Homo sapiens: one gene and its partners. The protein of the gene in region 2 purifies or fractionates together with the protein of the main gene of each other region. This does not show direct contact. Each region holds a gene or a part of one and is shown on either strand. Other genes may lie near its edges. The genes, in order: SANBR, CSTPP1 and TBC1D19.

Evidence for each region.
Region 1: the proteins of CSTPP1 (region 2) and SANBR purify together in Homo sapiens (co-immunoprecipitation; 2 studies listed by BioGRID and IntAct, with this or other methods). This does not show direct contact.
Region 3: the proteins of CSTPP1 (region 2) and TBC1D19 purify together in Homo sapiens (co-immunoprecipitation; 2 studies listed by BioGRID and IntAct, with this or other methods). This does not show direct contact.

What each region holds. Positions count from the first base shown.
Region 1 is NC_000002.12:61,082,763-61,089,875, forward strand, and holds part of SANBR (SANT and BTB domain regulator of class switch recombination), read left to right. Parts: intron 1-391; coding exon 392-552; intron 553-5,396; coding exon 5,397-5,483; intron 5,484-5,595; coding exon 5,596-5,706; intron 5,707-7,113. UniProt on the Homo sapiens protein: Negatively regulates class switch recombination or isotype switching in splenic B-cells.
Region 2 is NC_000011.10:46,932,720-46,939,854, reverse strand, and holds the start of CSTPP1 (centriolar satellite-associated tubulin polyglutamylase complex regulator 1), read right to left. Parts: upstream 3,050-7,135; coding exon 3,004-3,049; intron 1-3,003. UniProt on the Homo sapiens protein: Regulator of the tubulin polyglutamylase complex (TPGC) that controls cytoskeletal organization, nuclear shape, and cilium disassembly by balancing microtubule and actin assembly.
Region 3 is NC_000004.12:26,587,016-26,594,128, forward strand, and holds part of TBC1D19 (TBC1 domain family member 19), read left to right. Parts: intron 1-7,113. UniProt on the Homo sapiens protein: May act as a GTPase-activating protein for Rab family protein(s).

The DNA of each region.
Region 1 (7,113 bases), on a different chromosome or scaffold from region 2:
GAGCTGAGATCGTGCCACAGCACTCCAGCCTGGATGACAGAGCAAGACTCCATCTCAGAAAAAAAAAAGAAGTTTACATGTTCTGTATACTTGAGTTTATAGACTAAGATTTATACCTGCCACAATTTTAAAAGATGCATTATTATTATTTGAAATATTCTAAAGAAGGTTGAAAATAATTTTTTAGGTATGTATATATGTTGTTACAAATTTGACCTGCTAGATTGCCTTTGGAACAGTACAGATTAAGTCAAAAACTGGGTGGCAAAACCCAGTTAGTGCCTAGCAATATATGGATTAGACTTTTAATGAATTTTATCTTTGAAAGGTATTGCTATGACATTGTCCTTCATGCTACTATTTTCGACATTTATTTTCTATGATTTTTTAGGTTGAACAGTGTATTCAGTATTGCCACAAAAATATGAATGCCATAGTAGCTACCCCATGCAACATGAACTGTATTAATGCAAATCTTCTCACACGTATAGCTGATCTGTTCTCACACAATGAAGTTGATGATTTAAAGGACAAAAAAGATAAATTTAAAAGGTAATTTCAAAAGTTTAATTTTAAACCTAATACTCCTGTTAAAAGAAATATATTTCTATTTCATGTGAGTGAAATATTCTTTCTTTTTTCTTTTTTCTTTGAGAAAGGTTCTCACTCTGTTGTTCAGGCTGGAGTGCAGTGGTGCAATCTTGGCTCACTGCAGCCTCAACCTCCTGAGCTCTGGTGATCCTCCCACCTCAGCCTCCCAAGTAGCTGGGACTACAGGAATGCACCACCATGCCCAGCTAAATTAAAAAAAAAAAAAAAAATTTTGACCAGGCACAGTGGCTCACGCTTGTAATCCCAGCACTTTGGGAGGCCGAGGCGGGCAGATCACGAGGTCAAGAGATCAAGGCCATCCTGGCTAACATGGTGAAACCCCGTCTCTACTAAAAATACAAAAAATTAGCCAGGTGTGGTGGCAGGCGCCTGTAGTCCCAGCTGCTTGGGTGGCTGAGGCAGGAGAATGGCATGAACCTGGGAGGCGGAGCTTGCAGTGAGCCGAGATCACGCCACTGCACTCCAGCCTGGGTGACAGAGCGAGACTCCGTCTCAAAAAAAAAAAAAACTTTTTGTAGAGACAGGGTCTCACTTTGTTGCCCAGTTTTTGAAATTAATTTTTACTCTCTCTTTTCATTTATAGTTAGCTTATTATTATTATTTTGAGACGGTCTCTCTCTGTCGCCCAGGCTGGAGTGCAGTAGCAAGATACCAGCCACAACCTGTACCTTCAGGCTCAAGCGATCCTTCCACCTCAGCCTTCCAAGTAGCTGGAACCACAGGCGCACGCCACCATGCGCAGCTGATTTTTGTATTTTTTGTAGAGATGGGGGTTTGCTGCGTTGCCCAGCCTGGTCTTGAACTCCTGGGCTCAAGCAATCCACCCGCCTTGGCCTCCCAAAGTGCTGGGATTACAGGTGTGAGCCACCATGCCTGGCCAAAATACTCTATTTTTAGAATATATTTAGAAATATATTTCTATTTTTAAATGAAGTAAGTAAAGTGAAGTAAAATTTATCCAGAGCCAATGGCTCAAGATAAAAATTAGTAATTAGTTACTTTGTATAATGGCCATATGAACATATCGTGATAGTGAATTATGTTAAAAATTATGAAGATATTACTCAAGAGGCTGAGGTGGGATGATTGCTTGAGGCCAGGTGTTGAAAGCTGTAGGGCACTACTATTATCCCTCTGAAAAGCCACTGCACTCCAGCCTGGGCAACATAGTGAGACCCATTTCTAAACAAATAAAAATTATTAAAACAGACCTTAGATAAAGGGAAAAGTGGTATGAAACGAGGTCAGCAGTGGTTATATCATTTAAGGGTTGTTTAGGTCATAGCAAGGAGGATATACTTTAGGTGTGAATGCAAGCAGGGGAGTGACGTGATCTGATTTGTTGTTAAGAGGCCATTTTTGGTTGCTATGTGGAGAATAGACATTAGGGATTTAAGAAGCAAGGAGACCTGTTAAGAGGCTGGTGCAGTAGTCTGTTGAGAAGTGAAAGGGTTTGCACTAGGGTAGAAACGGTAGAGCTGGAAAGAAGTAGATGGACTCAGTTGTTAGATTTGACAGATTTATGAATGTAATGATGTGGGGAGAGAGAGAGGATTCCAGGATAATTATTAGGTTTTCAGTTTGAGTAACTAAGTGGATGGTAGTGCTATTAATGGAGAAAGGAAAGATTGGGAGAGGAAGGAATAGGGTAAGGGAAATCAAGAGATAGCTTTAGTTCTTTTTGAGATTATTTAACATGCTTCTTGGACATTCAAGTGGGATGGCAAGTAGATACCTGGATATATTAATCTGGAGTTTAGGTCAAAGGTCAGGACTTAAAATAGAAATTTAAGAGTAGATGAGATTTGAAACCATGGAACTGGATGAGACCATACTTTTTTTGTATGTCCTGTTCAATAAATCTTTGCCTCCCTAAAAGTGGTGAAGACATTGTCCTATGTTTTTCTGTTATTCATCTTGAATTAATTTTTTTTTGTGGTATGAGGTAGGGGTCAAGGTTCATTTTTTTTTCCCCAAATAGATATCTAGTTGACACAATACCATATGTTGAAAAGACCATCCTTTCCCCCACTGAATTGCACTAGTACGTTTACTATATGTGAAGTCTGTTTCCGAATTGTCCTTTGTGTTCTGTTGATTTCTTTGTCTATCCTTGTATCAGTAGCACACTGTTACACTGTCTTTTTTTTTTTGAGACAGAATTTCACTCTTGTCACCCAGGCTGGAGTGCAATCATGAGATCTCGACTCTCTGCAACCGCCGCCTCCCAGGTTCAAGCAATTCTCCTGCCTCAGCCTCCCAAGTAGCTGGGATTATAGGCACCCACCACCACACCCAGCCAATTTTTATATTTTTAGTAGAGACGGGGTTTCACCATGCTGGCCAGGCTGGTCTTGAACTCCTGACCTCAGGTGATCCGCCCGCCTCGGCCTCCCAACGTGCTGAGATTACAGACGTGAGCCACCACACCCAGCCAACACACTGTCTTAATTTTGATAGCTTTATAATCATTTTTGGTATCTGGTAATTTAAATTCTCAAGTTTTGCCTATCTTCAAGATTGTAGTGTTGTCTATTAAGTTCTTGGCATTTCTATATAAATTTGATAATCAGCTTACCCATTTTCTCTTTCTCACAATCACATAAACCTGCTAGAATTTGGGATTCATGTAATCTGTAGATCAATTTAGGAAGATTTAACCTTTTAATAATAGTGTGTCTTTCAATCCATGAATATGGTATAACCTTCCATTAATTTGAATCCTCCTTAATTTATTTCACCAATGTCTTGTAGTTTTCAATGTAGAGATATTTTTCCTTTTTATTTATTTTATTTTATTTTTTGAGACAGGGTCTTCTTGCTCAGTCACCCAAGCTGGAGGGTAGTGGTACAGCCATGGCTTACTGCGGCCTCAAACTCCTGGGCTCAAGCATCCTCCCACCTTGATCTCCCAAAGTTTTGGAATTAACAAGTGTGAGCCACCATACCCAACCTCTTTTTTAAATTAAATTTATTCCTAAAATAAATTAAATAAATAAATTTATTTAATAAATTAAATTGTTGGTGCTATTGTAAATGCTACTGTATTTCATTTTTTAATTGTTAGCAAAATAGTATTGATAAAGGCTACCCAATATTTAGAGATGCAGCAGAGGAGAAGTAGCCAGTTAAGAACCTGAGAAGGAGGAGCCAGTGAAGTAGAAAGAAAGGCAGAAGGAAAAAAGGTTTCCAAAGAAAGATAATGCTTAAGTGACCAAATGTGTGGAATGCTGCCATCACATAGAGTAAGATGGGGACAGAAATGTGACCAAGTGGATTTAGAAAACTTTTTTCCGGATGTTTTACTTTGCATGACTGCTGAAAAAATTAGCAGTAGCTATTAGGGATAGGTAGGCTCAAGAGAGGATTTTTTGTTTTTTTAGGAAGGGAGATACTAGATTATGTTTATATGCTGATCAGAATGATCCATTAGGAATAAATTAATAATGCAGGGGATTATTCAAGAATTTAATCCTTAAGGGGAACAACACAGAGAGGAATTATCCAAGAGCTAAATAATTGAAAACAGAAATGGAATTCTAAATCCAGATTTGGCTTTTAATAGCAGAAGACATTACACAAGGAAAGATGGAGACAGGTAGGATATACATTTAGAATTAAAGACATACTTAGAAGACTCAAGTTCAGTTATATTATGCATAATAATTAACGTTTATTGAATGCTTAACGTTATATCTAGTACTCTTTAAAAACATCACTTAACCCTCATAAAACTTTATGAGATTGGACATACTAACCACACTTTATACTTGAGAAAACAAGGTTCAAAGAGGTTAAGTAAGTGGCTAAAGATCATATACCTAGTTATTGGTAGGCCTCGGTTGTTAAATTCTCAAAATCTTTAATGTTGCATATTCCAGTAACAAAGGACTAAAAGAGGCCAGGCAAGGTGGCTCAAGCCTGTAATCTCAGCACTTCGGGAGGCCAAAGCAGGAGGATTACTTGAAGGCCAGGAGTCTGAGGCCAGCCTGGGCAACATAGCCAGCCCCAATCTCTACAGATTTTTTTTTTTTTTAATTAACTGAATGTGGTGGCACACAGTAGTCCTAGCTACTTGGGAGGCTGATGTGGGAGATCACCTGATCCCAGGAGTTTGAGGCCCAGGAGTCTGAGGTGCCACTGCACTCCAGCGTGGGTGATGGAGCAAGACCCTGTCTCTAAAAAAATAAAATAAGGCCGGGTGCAGTGGCTCACGCCTGTAATCCCAGTACTTTGGGAGGCTGAGGTGGGCGGATCATGAGGTCAAGAGATCGAGACCATCCTGGCCAATATGGTGAAACCCAATCTCTACTAAAAATACAAAAAATTTGCTGGGCATGGTCATGCACACCTGTAGTCCCAGCTACTCGGGATGCTCAGGCAGGATAATCGCTTGAACCCGGAAGGCAGAGGTTGCAGTGAGCAGAGATCGTGCTGTTGAACTCCAGCCTGGGCGACAGAGTGAGACTCTGTCTCAAAAAAAAAAAGTAAAAATAAAAAATAAAATTTAAAAATGACTGAAAGATAGCTATTTATCAATCTTATTTTTTATGGGAAAATAGATGATTGATCAAGCAGTTCTCATCAGAACTGCTTTATTTTATTTACTTAATAATAAACTGTTAATTTTATTTACTTAGAACACTAAAAATGTATTATAAACTCCCAAGAGAGCCACTAAGGATTTATTAATCTTATTTTACAAATGCACAGATTGGTTTGTTTATTTTCATCACTATAAAGTAGTGTAGAAAATTAATATTTTGGTCATTTGTTGTTAATAGCAAACTTTTTTGTAAGAAGATTGAAAGACTGTTTGATCCTGAGTACTTGAATCCAGATTCTCGGAGTAATGCAGCAACATTGTATAGGTATGCTAACATGTTTTTTTCTTTGGTGTACTTTATAATGCAGCTATATTCTTTAATTTACTACATTTACATTCTTCTTCCTGGATGTTTTTTGTATCTTCTTTGTTTATAGATGCTGTTTGTGTAAGAAACTTTTAACAAAAGAAACAGAAAGAAGAATTCCTTGCATTCCTGGAAAAATCAATGTGGATCGACGTGGAAATATTGTCTATATTCACATAAGGTGTCGTGAAGATAAAATACATACATGTATTTTTGTATATATATATATATAGTTGTTGTTGTTGTTTTGGAGACGGAGTCTTACTCTGTCACCCAGGCTGGCGTGCAGTGGTGTGGTCTTGGCTGACTGCAACCTTCCGCCTCCCAGGTTCAAGCGATTCTCCTGCCTCAGCTTCCTGAGAAGCTGGGACTACAGGCGTGTGCCACCACACCCAGCTAGTTTTTGTATTTTTAGTAGAGATGGAGTTTCACTGTGTTGGCCAGGCTGGTCTCGAACTCCTGACCTCATGATTTGCCCGCCTTGGCCTCCCAAAGTACTGGGATTATAGGTGTGAGCCACCGCTCCCAGCCCAGATTTTTTTTAAATGTGAATTTCTAGCATATTTATAAAAATATAACTACTTTTATAAGGAATGGGATAACATCTTTTCTGCATGTTATCCAACTTTCATTTAGAAAAATACTTTCTAAACAAGGTAGTTGTTAGTACATTTTATTTACTGGGTAAGTGTCATAATGTTTTACACATTAAAATGATAAAAATTATTGTATATTAATCTTGAAAGGTATTCTGGTTAGTGCCTTTAAAATGCTCTCTTTTCACTAACAGATTTTAGTTATCTGTACAAATGTTATATTGAATTTTACAAGAGAACCAAATTTACTTTCAGGTAAATTTTGGTGAGGAAAATTGTCTTTAGCATTGGATTTTCTGTCATCTATTTGTTCTTCATACTTTGTCAGTATTTCATTAATATGTAGGCCGGGCACGGTGGCTCACACCTATAATCCCAGCACTTTGGGAGGCCAAGTCAGGTGGATCACCTGAGGTGAGGAGTTTGAGACCAGCCTGACCAACATGGTGAGACCCCGTCTCTACTACAAAAAACTAGTTGAGCATGGTGGTGGGTGCCTGTAGTCTCAGCTACTTGGGAGGCTAAAGCAGGGGACTCACTTGAACCCAGGAGGCAGAGGTTGCAGTGAACCGAGATAGTGCCACTGCACTCCAGCCTGGTGACAGAGCAAGACTCCATCTGAAAAAAATAAATAAAATAAAAATTAGCTGGGAATGGTGGTGCACACCTGTAACCCAGCTACTTGGGAGGCCAAGGCAGGAGAATCACTTGAACCCGGGAGGTGGAGGTTGCAGTGAGCCGAGAGCACACCATTGCACTCCAGCCTAGACAACAAGAGTGAAACTCCATCTCAAATAAATAAAATAAATAAATACATAATACATATTTCTCTTTATGTTCAAAACAAGTTCTCATTCTGAGTTGAGGGTGGGTGTTGTAACTTGGTATAATGTCTCAGGAGGCAGAAACCTCAAAATGTGTATTCTTTGACATCCTTCATCCAGTATCATTCAGGCTGAAATGCAGTGGTGCAATCATAGCTCACTGCAGCC
Region 2 (7,135 bases):
AAATTACTTCAAGATGTATTAAATGAAAAAGTATGCACTGTATACTCCTTTATGTATATAATAAACTCTGGAAAGATACACAGGAAAACAATAATAGTGGTTACTTTTGGGAGGCTGAGGATGGATGGAAACTGGGCAGATGGAGGCAAAGGGGTAGGCTTTTCACTAAAAACATCTACCTATCTATCTATCTATCTATCTATCTATCTATCTATCTATCTATGCATTTTAGAGGCAGGGTCTCACTCTATCATCCAGTCTGGTCTTGAACTCCTGACCTCAAGCAATCCTCCTACGTCAGCCTCCCAAAGTATTGGGATTACAGGCATGAGCCACCATGCCAGGCCTAAAAAATACTTTGAATCAAGTTTCCATATTACCAACCTTAAAAAATATTTTAAAATTAATTTTTAAAATAAGTTAAACAAAATGTAAACCAGAATTGTTTTTCATTTAAAAAGATGTTGGCTGGGCGCGGTGGCTCACGCCTGTAATCCAAGCAGTTTGGGAGGCCGAGGTGGGTGGATCACCTGAGGTCAGGAGTTTGAGACCAGCCTGACCAACATGGAGAAACCCATCTCTACTAAAAATACAAAATTAGCCAGGCGTGGTGGCGCATGCCTGTAATCCCAGGTACTAGGGAGGCTGAGGCAGGAGAATCACTTGAACCCAGGAGGCGGAGGTTGGGGTGAGCCCAGATCGCATCATTGCACTCCAGCCTAGGCAACAAGAGTGAAACTCCATCTCAAAAAAAAAAAAAAAAAAAAAAAAAGATGTAAGCCAGGTGCAGTGACTCACACCTGTAATCTCAGTACTTTGGAAGGCCACAGTAAGAGGCTTGCTTGAGCCCTGGAGTTCAAGACCAACCTGGACAACATAGTGAGACTCTTTCTCTACAAAAAATTAAAAAATTAACCAGGGATGGTGGCATGTGCCTGTAGTCCCAGCTACTTGGAAGGCTGAGGTAGCAGGATCACTTGAGCCCGGAGGTTGAGGCTGCAGTGAGCCGTGATAGTGCCACTGCACTCCAGCCTGAGTGACAGTGCCAGACATTGTCTCAAAAAAAAAAAAAAAGAAGAAGAAAAAAAAAAAAGATGTGCATGGTACATCCATACAATGGAATATTATTCAGAAATAAAAAGAAATGAGTTATCATGCCACAGAAAGACATGGAGGAAACTTAAATGCTTACTGCTAAGTTAAAGAAGCCCATCTGAAAAATTTACACACTGTATGACTCCAACTACATGATATTCTGGAAAAGGCAAAACTTTAGAGACCATAAGATCAGTGGTTGGCAAGGGCTGCAGGGGGAGGGAGAAGGATCAATAGGTGGAGCACAGGGGATTTTTCAGGACAGTGAAACTATTCTGTATGATAATGGAATGGTGAATACATGACATGCATTTATCAAAACCCACAGAACTGAACAACACAAAGAACCCTAATGTAAACTATGGACTTTAGTTAATAATATGTATCTATAATAATATATCTATATAATAATAATAATATATAATATATTATTATATATTATAAATATATATGTTTATCCATTGTAACAAATGTACCACACTAATGCAAGATGTAAATAATAGCGGAAACTGTGAGTGAGGGAGACCCAAGGTATATGGGAACTCGCCGTACTATCTGCTCAATTTTCTGTAAACTTAAAACTTCTCGCCATGTGCAGTGGCTCACGCCTGTAATCCCAACACTTTGGGAGGCCGAGGTGGGCGGATCACCTGAGGTCAGGAGTTTGAGACCAGCCTGACCAACATGGTGAAACCCCGTCTCTACTAAAAATATAAAATTAACCTGGCGTGGTGGCGCATGCCTGTAATCTCAACTACTCGGGAGGCTGAGGCAGGAGAATCGCTTGAATCCGGGAGGCAGAGGTTGCAGTGTACTCCAGCCTGGGCAACAGGAGAGAAACTCTGTCTCAAAAAACAAAACAAAACAAAACAAAACGTCTTTAAAAAAATAAAAGTCTATGAATTATTTAAAATGTGTATTGTGGCCGGGCGCGGTGGCTCACGCCTGTAATCCAAGCACTTTTGGAGGCTGAGGCGGGCAGATCACGAGGTCAGGAGATCGAGACCATCCTGGTTAACACGGTGAAACCCCGTCTCTATTAAGTATACAAAAAAGTAGCCGGGCGAGGTGGCGGGCGCCTGTAGTCCCAGCTACCCGGGAGGCGGAGCTTGCAGTGAGCCAAGATCGCGCCACTGCACTCCAGCCCGGGCGACAGAGCTAGACTCCGTCTCAAAAATAAAATAAAATAAAATGTGTATTGTGTGCATATGTGTGTGTGTGTACATATCTATGCGTGTGTGTGCCTTTTTTCATTCATTAAATGCCTTATACACTAAAGATGCTCAACAAAGTACTACATATACAGTCTTAGCTCAAGAGCCAAGTCAATATCTCAAGTTCTGTTGGAGTGGGCAAATCCGGTTCTGATCCTAGCGCTACCATTTTCTAGCTGTGTGGCCTAACTTAACGCAAGTTACCTCTTCAGCCCCAGTTTCTCCACCTGCAAAACTGGAAGAAAACACGGTAATTCCTCCTAGGGCTGTTGAGAAATTCAAATGAAGAATGATGCATGAAAAATGCTTAGCACAGTGCCTAATGAAAAAGAAAAGCTCGAAATGTTCGCTGACTGATTTGGCACTTGAGGTTCCAAGGTTATTCTTACTCCACTACCAGCATATCAATAATACCCCAACAGGGCCCCAAATCCTCAACGCCAACCTGACCCATTTGAACACAATCCACATTGCCTGAGTTCCAGCCCCTACACTTCAAACATTCTTTACTTCCCAGGTGCTTTTTTCCTTCCTGCTCGGCCTTACAGGCTCAGGCCCTGGAACCCCCGCCTCTCCGCCCCTCCCCATACCACCCGGACCCGATCCCACTCAGACCCCGCCCCCGCCTCCTCCCAGACCCTGGCCTAATTCGTCTGCACGTCTTTCCCTCCCCAAAGTTAAAGGGGGTTCCTACCCAGATACTCGTAGTCCGGTAGGGCTAGGCGCTCCGGACTCAGCATCCTTTGACCGGGGTGGCTTCAAAGCTCCAGCTCTCCGGCTTCCGGAACCCAGGTTGCCGTCTCTCTCCGTTGCCATGGCACCCACGCGGCGGAAGGGGGACGGGAGCTGGAGGAGGTGTCACACAAACAGTCTCCGTGTCGCAAAGTGGAGCTGGCCACTCAAGTTCCGGGGGCAGTCGCTTCACGATGGTCCAGGTTTCTTTGGACTCCCATTCTTGAAGACTTGGTTTTAGAGGAATCTGAGATGAAGAATTCTTTTGAATCCGTTATGTTTCCCAGTGTCGAAGAATTACTGTCAGCCGCCCATATACGCAGTTTCTGAATTTCATAACTATCCCTGCTTTTATACACTGTTTATCCTAACTCAGTAATAGCCCCCGCCCTTTGGCCCCCATAAACACTTAGTATCCCATTAGCTATTTTTATCTCTTTGGTATTTACTATCTTAAATTGCTACAAAGTGCTTACGTATGCATATACCCTGGATGCTTCTAGAGGTCAGAGATGTGTCTTTTCTGCCTATGACGGCTGGACACACAAAAGGTACTCATTAAGTCCTCTGAACTAATTGCCATTTCTTCTCAATTCTCACTCAGTCGCCCAGGCTGGAGTGCAGTAGCGTGATCTCGGTTCATTGCAACCAGCGCCTCCCGGGTTCAAGCGATTCTCCTGCCTCAGCCTCCCAAGTAGCTGGGATTACAGGCGCCCGCCACTCCGCCTGGCTAATTTTTTGTGTTTTTAGTAGAGATGGGGTTTCACCATGTTGGCGAGGCTGGTCTGCAAACTCTTGACCTCAGGTGATCCGCCGACCTCAGGTGATCCGCCTGCCTCAGGCCTCCCAAAGTGCTGGGATTACAGGCGTGAGCCACCGCGCCCAGGCTCAATTCCTTTTTATCTTTGGTTCTTCTTTCTATTCCTAGCCCTTACTATTTGGTACCTTTCCCAGGTGTCTTTCCTTTTTCCTACCAAGACATTGCTCTTCTTGAGGGAGAGGGGCTGCAGAAACGAGGACACCAGTTAGATTTTTTTCCCTATATGCCCAATTGCTCACTTCTTCTTTAAGAGAATATTCACTGGTTTTCAAGTTCCTAAATATTTCTTTTCGCCCCTCTCCACTCCTGACAACAGGTCAGAGATCTGTAGCACTAGACACAGTTCAGACATAGCAGAAAAAGCCACTCTGTCCTCACTTTTTTAGTGCCCTCCCCCTCCAACAAGGTGAGGTTTGTGAAAAAGAGACAAAGAAAACAAAATCAAGCTATCAAAGGAATGACTGGGAAACCAGTAGACCACCTACACTGGGAGGAAAAGGAAAGAGGAGGTTCTTCTCTTTGTGTTCCGAGTGGCCTATTCTTAGCGTCCTCCAGTAAGGAGCCTCAAACCTCCTAATTCTTGCTTTCCCTTAAAATTGTATATGTGTCTCAATTCTAGGCTCCTGTGAGTCACTCTAAGTTTGGATGTGGTGAGGTTAAAAGGACAGAGCCAAAGTAGGAGCAGGGCTTAGTGTCTTGAGGCAAATTTACTAATTTGGTATTTGGTGTGAAGTCCAGCAAATCTGATTTTTTTTTAATTGCCTTCTTATCTGCTTCCCCCATCTAGCTTGAGGTTATGGGAGGTTCATATGTTCCATAACTGTGGCTTTTTACTATTTTATTAATAAGGTAATACCATAGTAATTATTAAGTGATAATTTTACTTTATTCCCAAGCAACTTGTAGCTATTTGCAAATAATCTTATTTGTCCTCATAAAAACTTTCTGCTGAGGTGGGCGGATCACGAGTTCAGGAGTTCGAGACCAGCCTGGCCAATATGGAGAAACCCCATCTCTACTAAAAATACAAAAATTAGCCAGGCGTGGTGGCGCACGCCTGTAATCCCAGCTACTCAGGAGGCTGAGGCAGAAGAATCACTTGAACCGGGGAGGCAGAAGTTGCAGTGAGCCAAGATCGCACCACTGCACTCCAGCCTGGGCGACACAGCGAGACTCCGTCTCAAAAAAAAAAAAAAAAAAAAAAAAAAAACCTTTCTAAGGCACTTTTCCATTTTCTAACTAGGGAAACTGAGGCACAAGTCACAACAGTGACTTGTCTAGTGACTTGTCTAGCATCATGCAGCCACATAGTGGTAGAGCTACAACTGGATCTCAGCTATCCCAACATCCAGGCCAGTGGTCTGACCACTAAACCACACAGTCTCTTTTTTTAGGGTTTGTTGACCTGGCTTTTATTTATTTATTTTTCCTTTTGCTCTGCCCTGCTAGCAACTGGAAGCTCCCAGATAGAAGAAGATAATGTTGAGTCCAGGCTGAACATTTGACATCGTCTTATTTGTGGAGCATTATCCTGGGACTTGGCGGGTGCTGGCTGCTGGGGTCTGTGTGGTGGAGCTGGGAACCAGCCCCAAGAATATAGCTTTGTTTGGGCATTAACCCATTTGTGGTTATAATAATGATAAGTTTCAGCACCAGTGGCGCCCGACTGTTAATGACTCAAAGAAGGCTAAATAAGAACAAGATGTCATCTCTGGAGCAATTTGTAGGTTTTTCCTACAGTTCCATCCCTTCCATAAAAATCCGAAGGACCCCTGTATTCAAAGTCAGTCTTCCACTCTGAATGTCCTGAACAGTCTATTGAGGAGGAGGACTTAGAAAAGTAGGAGGTTGCTAGAGTAAGGCTTCACAAAAATTTGAAGTTTCACCGAAATAACAGGTGGCCTTACTGGTAGTGGAATTACTGACTGTTTACATTTTTCTTCTTTATATTTTTCTATAGTCTTAAACTTTCTATAATAGGCATGTATTATAACCTGAAAACAAATAATAAATGAGTGGCCTGAAAATCTTTAAAATTTTTTAAGCAGATGTGATGACCTTCCAGACAGTGTTTGTTTTTCCCAAAAAGAAGCCACTGCTAGATTTCTCTTCTGTCACAGATTACATGATAATAGATTTTTGAAACACATTGGTTATTGGTGAAATTTTTCAATGAAACATACACTACATCAGTCTTAAGAAGAGTAGAAATATATAAGAGTTGTTAAAATTAAGTGTATTTTTTGTGACTTGAATGTGAAAGAAAGAAAAAAAATGTCAGCCTTTGATTTAAATTGACTTTTCAGGTTCTTAACTTATCATAATATATTTCTTAAAAATTTACCAAAAAAAAAAATCACCGAGGTAAATCGGTAAGTCAGAAGACAACTCCATAATCCTGAAAAGAGGCAAGTGATAAGATATTGATGATAAATAGAGCATCGGATGTTAAAGGCAGTACTACAGCATGACGACTGTAAACATCAAATTCAGAACAATAAGAAAAAAACAAGAGAGAGAATATATTGAGATGGTTTTTGTTTTTGTTTGTTTGTTTTTTGAGACAGAGGCTCACTCCATCATCCAGAAAGGAGTGGAATGGTGCAATCTCTGCTTACTGCAACCTCTGTGTCCCAGGTTCAAGCCATTCTCCTGCCTCAGCCTCCCGAGTAGTTGGGACTACAGGTGTGTGCCACCACACCCGGCTAATTTTTGTATTTTCAGTAGAGACAGGGTTTCGCCATGTTGACCAGGCTGGTCTCGAACCCCTGACTTCAAGTGATCCACCCGCCTCAGTCTCCCAAAGTGCTGGGATTACAGGTGTGAGCCACTGCACCTTTTGTTTTTTGTTTGTTTGTTTGTTTTGTTTTTTAGTATATATAAGGTCTCCCTTTGTCACCCAGGCTGGAGTGCAATGGCACAATCACAACTCACTGTAGCCTGGAATTCTTGGGCTCAAGTAATCCTCCCACCTCAGCCTCCTGAGTAGCTGGGATCACTGGTGCATGCCACCACATCCAGATAATATTTTTAATTTTGTAGAGACAAGGTCTTGCTAGGTAGCCCAGGCTGGTTTCGAATTCCTGAGCTCAAGCAATCCTCCTGCCTCAGTCTCCCAAAGTGCATGAGCCACTGCACCCAGCTGAGACATCAATTTATCAGATTATAATTTCTGATTTTATAATGAGAAAATTAATAGACATCTCTGGCTCTGCAGAAGACCTATTAAGAGATTGATAGGGAAGAAAATCCTCCCTATAATTGAAGACTATAG
Region 3 (7,113 bases), on a different chromosome or scaffold from region 2:
GCTCTATTCTATCCCTAGTTTTCTGAGAGTTTTATCATGAATGGATGTTGAACTTTGTTAAGTACTTTTTTATATCTGTAGATATGTTCATATTATTTTTCCTGCTCATGTTGATATGATGAATAATACTGATTGGCTTTGAATGTTGCACCAATTTTGTATTCCTGAGATAAATTCCACTTGGTTATGATGCATTATTCTTTTTATATATTTCTTGACTCAATTTGCTAACATTTTGCTGAAGATTTTGTAACTGTATTTATGAAAGATACTGGTTTGTGGCCAGGCGCGATGGCTCATGCCTGTAATCCTAGCACTTTGGGAGGCCAAGGTGGGCAGATCGCTTGAGCTCACGAGTTTGAGACCAGCCTGGGCAACATGGCAAAACCCTATCTCCACAAAAAATACAAAAATTAGCCAGTGTGGCAGTGCGCACCTGTAGTCCCAGCTACTTGAGAGGTTGAGGTGGGAGGATGGCTTGAACCTGGGTAGCAGAGGTTGCAGTGAGCAGAGATCGCACCACTGCACTTCAGCCTGGGTGATAGAGCCAGACCTTGTCTCAAAAAAAAAAAAAAAAAGATATTTCTTTGTAGTTTTTTTTTTTCTTGTAACACTTTGTCTGCTTTCGATACCAGTTAATGATGATCTTATAAAATAAGTTGGGAAGTGTTCCTTATTTTCTGGAAGAATTTATGTAGAATTAATATTATTTGCTCCTTAAATATTTGGTAGAGTTCCCAGCAAAGTCACTGGTGCCTAGAGTTTTCTTTATGGACACATTTTTAATTAAAAAAATTCAATTAAAAATATATGCAGGCCATTCAGGTTATCTATTTCTTCTTCTGTAAGCTTTTGTAGTTTTTATGTTTCAAGAAGTTGCCGCACTTAATTTATTTTAACGAATTTACTGGTATAAAATTGTTTATATGATCCCCTTATATTCCTTTTAGTGTCTGTAGGATTTGTAGTGATAGCCCCTCCTTCCTTCCTTATACTGTCATATGTGTTCTTTTTTTTTTTTTTTTTTTGAGGTGAAATCTCGCTTTGTCGCCCAGGCTGGAGTGCAGTGGCATGATCTCGGCTCACTGCAAGCTCCGCCTCCCGGGTTCACGCCATTCTTCTACCTCAGCCTCCTGAGTAGCTGGGACTACAGGCGCCTGCCACCACGCCCAGATGATTTTTTGTATTTTTAGTAGAGACAGGATTTCACCGTGTTAGCCAGGATGGTCTCGATCTCCTGACCTCGTGATCCGCCCGCCTTGGCCTCCTAAAGGGCTGGGATTAAAGGCATAAGCCACCGCACCTGGCCATGTGTTCTTTTTCCCTAATTAATCTGGCTAGAGATTTATCAATTATATCAATACTTTCAAAGAAGTAGCTCTTGGTTTGATTGTTTTTCTGTTTTCAATCGCTCTGATTTTTTTCCTTTATTATTTTTTTCTGCTTGCTTTGGATTTAATTTGCATTTTTAAAGCTATTTAGGTGAAATTTAAATTTTTGATTTGAGACCTTTATTCTCTTCTAATTAAATGCTCTAAATTTCTTTCTATGTACTGGTTTATCTGTGTCTATAAATTAGGATATAGTCTATTGCCATTTTCACCCAATTAAAATTTAAAAAAATTCTCTTGTGATTTTATGGGTTCTAATAACCCATGGGTTATTTATAAATGTGTTGTTTACCACTATCTTTCTCTGATTGATTTCTAGTTTAATTCTCTTATGGTCAAGAATAAAATATGTATGATTTTAGCTGTTTACTTACTTTTATGATCCAGAATATGTTTTATCTTGTTTGTTTCATATGTACTTGAAAAGCATGCTTATTCTGCTGTTTCTGTTCCATAATTGTCAATTAGGTCTAGTAGGCAATTTTGTTTCAGTATTCTATATCCTTACTGAGTGTAGGGGCTTCAGTCAATATAGACAAGGATCAAGCTGGGTTTGGGTTTTGTTATTGTTGTCATTACCTTCAGTATATCACAGGCTTCAGATTCCTTTGAAACTAGAGGTAGTTAGGAGGCTGAGGTGGGCAAATCACTTAAGGCCAGGAGTTTGAGACCAGCCTCGCCAACATGGTGAAACCCTGTCTCTACTAAAAATACAAAAATTAGCCAGGTGTGGTGGTGCATTCCTGTAATCCCAACTACTCGGGAAGCTGAGGCAGGAGAATTGCTTGAACCCGGGAGGTGGAGGTTGCAGCGAGCCAAGATCGTGCCACTGCCCTTCAACCTAGGGGACAGAGCGAGACTCCATCTCAAAAACACAAACAACAACAACAACAACAACAAAACCCAGTAGTAGACTGCTGTTACTTTGTGCTTGGCATAGATCTTAGGGTACTACAGAGTTTTTCTCATTGTTTCTACTACATCCTTGACTTTCTTCTGTCTCCTTGCCTGTTCCTCAGGGGGAGATCTCTCTTTGTGCTCTTGTCCCCAGCAGAAGTCTGTTGTTTGTTATTCAGTCCTGGGCTCACAGTAGGTGCAGGAGTCATCTGTTTTTCTGACTCAGTCCATGTGCTTTATCCTTGGATGTGGAGCTTTCCCAGCTTTGGCATGTTCCATCCCCTTATCCCTTTGGCAGCCCAGTTCTGCCTTGTGTCTGTGGTATTGAGTGAAAGACCCATACCTGCCCTGCCCTAGTGCTAATTTACCTCTGCTTTGTATTGTTGTAGGATCCTGGGCCCAAGAGAGTTTTCTTATTTTCCTATGAGGTTGAGGGTTTTTGTATCTATCCCACCCCCAAAAGCAGTGAATTACTGCCTTGTCTTCAGAATGGGAGGGTTTCTGAACCTTCCCCAGTGTTTTTAGTCCTTTGCTTCAGATGAGAGGAGAGTTTGGCCAAGGTAGCAGTTTTATGCTTGTCCTGCAGTGGCAGCCTATCTCGTTTTGCACACCTGTGCCACCAGAGTGCTCTTTGTAGATTTCTGCTCTCAGTCTTTTGTATGGGCACCTGGCATAGACCTATGGAAAAGACTATGCAAATGTGTGTGAATTCCCCTTGCATTTTGGGTTCCAAAATTATTCCAAACCGACACACTAGCCTACATCTTGTCTATGATAGTTAACATTTTAGTTCATTTCTTACTGTCTTGTATGGTAGCTTCCTTTTCCTCCTGTGCTCTGCCAAAGGTGAAGTAGTTTAGAATCTCATTTGTCCTTGAAGGAGCTTGTTACTACTTGGAATTTAATTCACTTGGTTGTCTTATAGCTTCAGTTTACTGATGGGTTCAGAATGTATGATTTTTGAATATTGTACTGTTTTTCTTATTTGGCTGGGGGTGACATTCTTTTATAGTGGCTTTCTACAGTGGAGCTAACAGAACTCCAAGAATTAGGGTATAAATATTGCTATAATGTCGTGAGAATGATTGGTATGTAATTTTCCTTCCTTGTAACCATCTTTGTCACGTTTTATATCAAGGTTATGCTGGCCTCATAAAATGAGTAGGGAAGTGCTGCCTCCCTTTTAAAATTTTATTTGCCATAAGAGTGTTATGAGATTTGTTATTTTTTAAATGTTTGGAAGAATTCTTCAATGAAGCCTGTGTCTGCAGTTTTCTATTTGAGAATATTTTTAAATTAATAGACTTTAGATTTACAGAAAAATTGATCAGAAAGTAGTTTCCATTTATCCCTCTCCTTTGCACAATTTTCATCTATTATTAACATCTTGCATTAGTGTGGTACATTTGTTTCAGTTGAACTAATATTGATACGTTATTATTAACTAAAGTTCATGGTTTACATTAAGGTTCACTCTTTGTCTTGCAGGTCTGTTTTTTTTTTTTTTTTTTTTTTTTTTTTTTTGTGAGTCAGTGTCTTGCTATGTTTGTCTCGCTAGGCTGGTCTCAAGCTCCTGGGCTCAAGGGATCCTCCTGACTCAGTCTCCTAAGTAGCTGGAATTCCAGGTGTTCACCCATGTACATGGCTACTGTGGGTTTTGACAAATACATGGTGTCCTGTATTTATGTATTCACAATTCCAGTATCATACAGAATAGTTTCAGTATTCTAAAAATCCCCTGTGGCTTACCTGCTCATTCCTCCCTTCCCCCTGAGACTCCGGCAACCACTTTTTACTGTCTCTATAGTTTTGCTTTTAAGAATGTCATATAGTTGGAATTATGTGGTATGTAGTTATTTTACTGGTGTCTTTCACTTAGCAATATTCATTTAATGTTCCTCTCTGTCTTTTTGTGGCTTGATAGCTGATTTTTTTTTCTGTTTAGTAATATTTTATTGTATAGATGTACCACAGTTTGTTTATGCATTCACCTGTTGATAGACATCTTGGTTGCATACAAATTTTAGCACTTATGAATAAAACTGCTATAGGGAGCTGAGATCGCACCACTGTGGAACAGGAATTAAAAAAAATTAAAGAATGTGTAAGCAGAAACTCAGTTATATGTAAGAAACCCAATTCCCCTTGAGAAAGAGAAAGAGCTGGAGTCCTTTAAAAATTAACTGCCTGAACTGAAGGAAACAGAGACACAAAAAAACCCTTCAAAAAATCAATGAATCCAGGAACTGGTTTTTTGAAAAGAACAACAAAATTGATAGACCACTAGCAAGGCTAATAAAGAAGAAAAGAGAGAAGAATCAAATAGACACAATAAAAAATGATAAAGGGGATATCACCACTGATCCCACAGAAATACAAACTACCATCAGAGAATACTATAAACACATCTACGCAAATAAACTAGAAAATCTGGAAGAAATGGATAAATTCCTCGACACATACACTCTCCCAAGACTAAACCAAGAAGAAGTTGAATCTCTGAATAGGCCAATAACAGGCTCTGAAATTGAGGCAATAATAAATAGCTTACCAACCAAAAATAGTCCAGGACCAGACGGATTCACAGCCAGATTCTACCAGAGGTACAAGGAGGAGCTGGTACCATTCCTTCTGAAACTATTCCAATCAATAGAAAAAGAGGGAATCCTCCCTAACTCATTTTATGAGGCCAGCATCATCCTGATACCAAAGCCTGGCAGAGACACAACAAAAAAAGAGAATTTTAGACCAATATCCCTGATGAACATCAATGCAAAAATCCTCAATAAAATACTGGCAAACCGAATCCAGCAGCACATCAAAAAGCTTATCCACCATGATAAGTGGGCTTCATCCCTGGGATGCAAGGCTGGTTCAACATATGCAAATCAATAATTGTAATCCAGCATATAAACAGAATCAATGACAAAAACCACATGATTATCTTAATAGATGCAGAAAAGGCCTTTGACAAAATTCAACAGCCCTTCATGCTAAAAACTCTCAATAAATTAGGTATTGATGGGACATATCTCAAAAATAATAAGAGCTGTTTACGACAAACCCACAGCCAATATCATACTGAATGGGCAAAAACTGGAAGCATTCCCTTTGAAAACTGGCACAAGACAGGATGCCCTCTCTCACCACTCCTATTCAACATAGTGTTGGAAGTTCTGGCCAGGGCAATCAGGCAGGTTAAAGAAATAAAGGGTATTCAATTAGGAAAAGAGGAAATCAAATTGTCCCTGTTTGCAGATGACATGATTGTATATCTAGAAAACCCCATCGTCTCAGCCCAAAATCTCCTTAAGCTGATAAGCAACTTCAGCAAAGTCTCAGGATACAAAATCAATGTACAAAAATCACAAGCATTCTTATACACCAATAACAGACAAACAGAGAGCCAAATCATGAGTGAACTCCCATTCACAATTGCTTCAAAGAGAATAAAATACCTAGGAATCCAACTTACAAGGGATGTGAAGGACCTCTTCAAGGAGAACTACAAACCACTGCTCAATGAAATAAAAGAGGATACAAACAGATGGAAGAACATTCCATGCTCATGGGTGGGAAGAATCAATATCATGAAAATGGCCATACTGCCCAAGGTAATTTATAGATTCAATGCCATCCCCATCAAGCTACCAATGACTTTCTTCACAGAATTGGAAAAAGCTACTTTAAAGTTCATATGGAACCAAAAAAGATCCTGCATTGCCAAGTCAATCCTAAGCCAAAAGAACAAAGCTGAAGGCATCACACTACGTGACTTCAAACTATACTACAAGGCTACAGTAACCAAACCAGCATGGTACTGGTACCAAAACAGAGATATAGACCAATGGAACAGAACAGAGGCCTCAGAAATAATGCCACATATCTACAACTATCTGATCTTTGACAAACCTGAGAAAAACAAGCAATGGGGAAAGGATTCCCTATTTAATAAATGGTGCTGGGAAAACTGGCTAGCCATATGTAGAAAGCTGAAACTGGATCCCTTCCTTACACCTTATACTAAAATTAATTCAAGATGGATTAAAGATTTAAATGTTAGACCTAAAAGCATAAAAACCCTAGAAGAAAACCTAGGCAATACCATTCAGGACATAGGCATGGGCAAGGACTTCATGTCTAAAACACCAAAAGCAATGGCAACAAAAGCCAAAATTGACAAATGTGATCTAATTAAACTAAAGAGCTTCTGCACAGCAAAAGAAACTACCGTCAGAGTGAACAGGCAACCTACAGAATGGGAGAAAATTTTTGCAATCTACTCATCTGACAAAGGGCTAATATCCAGAATCTACAATGAACTCAAACAAATTTACAAGAAAAAAACAATCAACCCCATCAACAAGTGGGCAAAGGATATGAACAGACACTTCCCAAAAGAAGACATTTATACAGCCAAAAGACACGTGAAATAATGCTCATCATCACTGGCCATCAGAGAAATGCAAATCAAAACCACAATGAGATACCATCTCACACCAGTTAGAATGGCGATCATTAAAAAGTCAGGAAACAACAGGTGCTGGAGAGGTTGTGGAGAAATAGGAACACTTTTACACTGTTGGTGGGATGGTAAACTAGTTCAACCATTGTGGAAGTCAGTGTGGCGATTCCTCAGGGATCTAGAACTAGAAATACCATTTGACCCAGCCATCCCATTACTGGGTATATACCCAAAGGATTATAAATCATGCTGCTATAAAGACACATGCACACGTATGTTTATCGCGGCACTATTCACAATAGCAAAGACTTGGAACCAACCCAAATGTCCAACAATGGTAGACTGGATAAAGAAAATGTG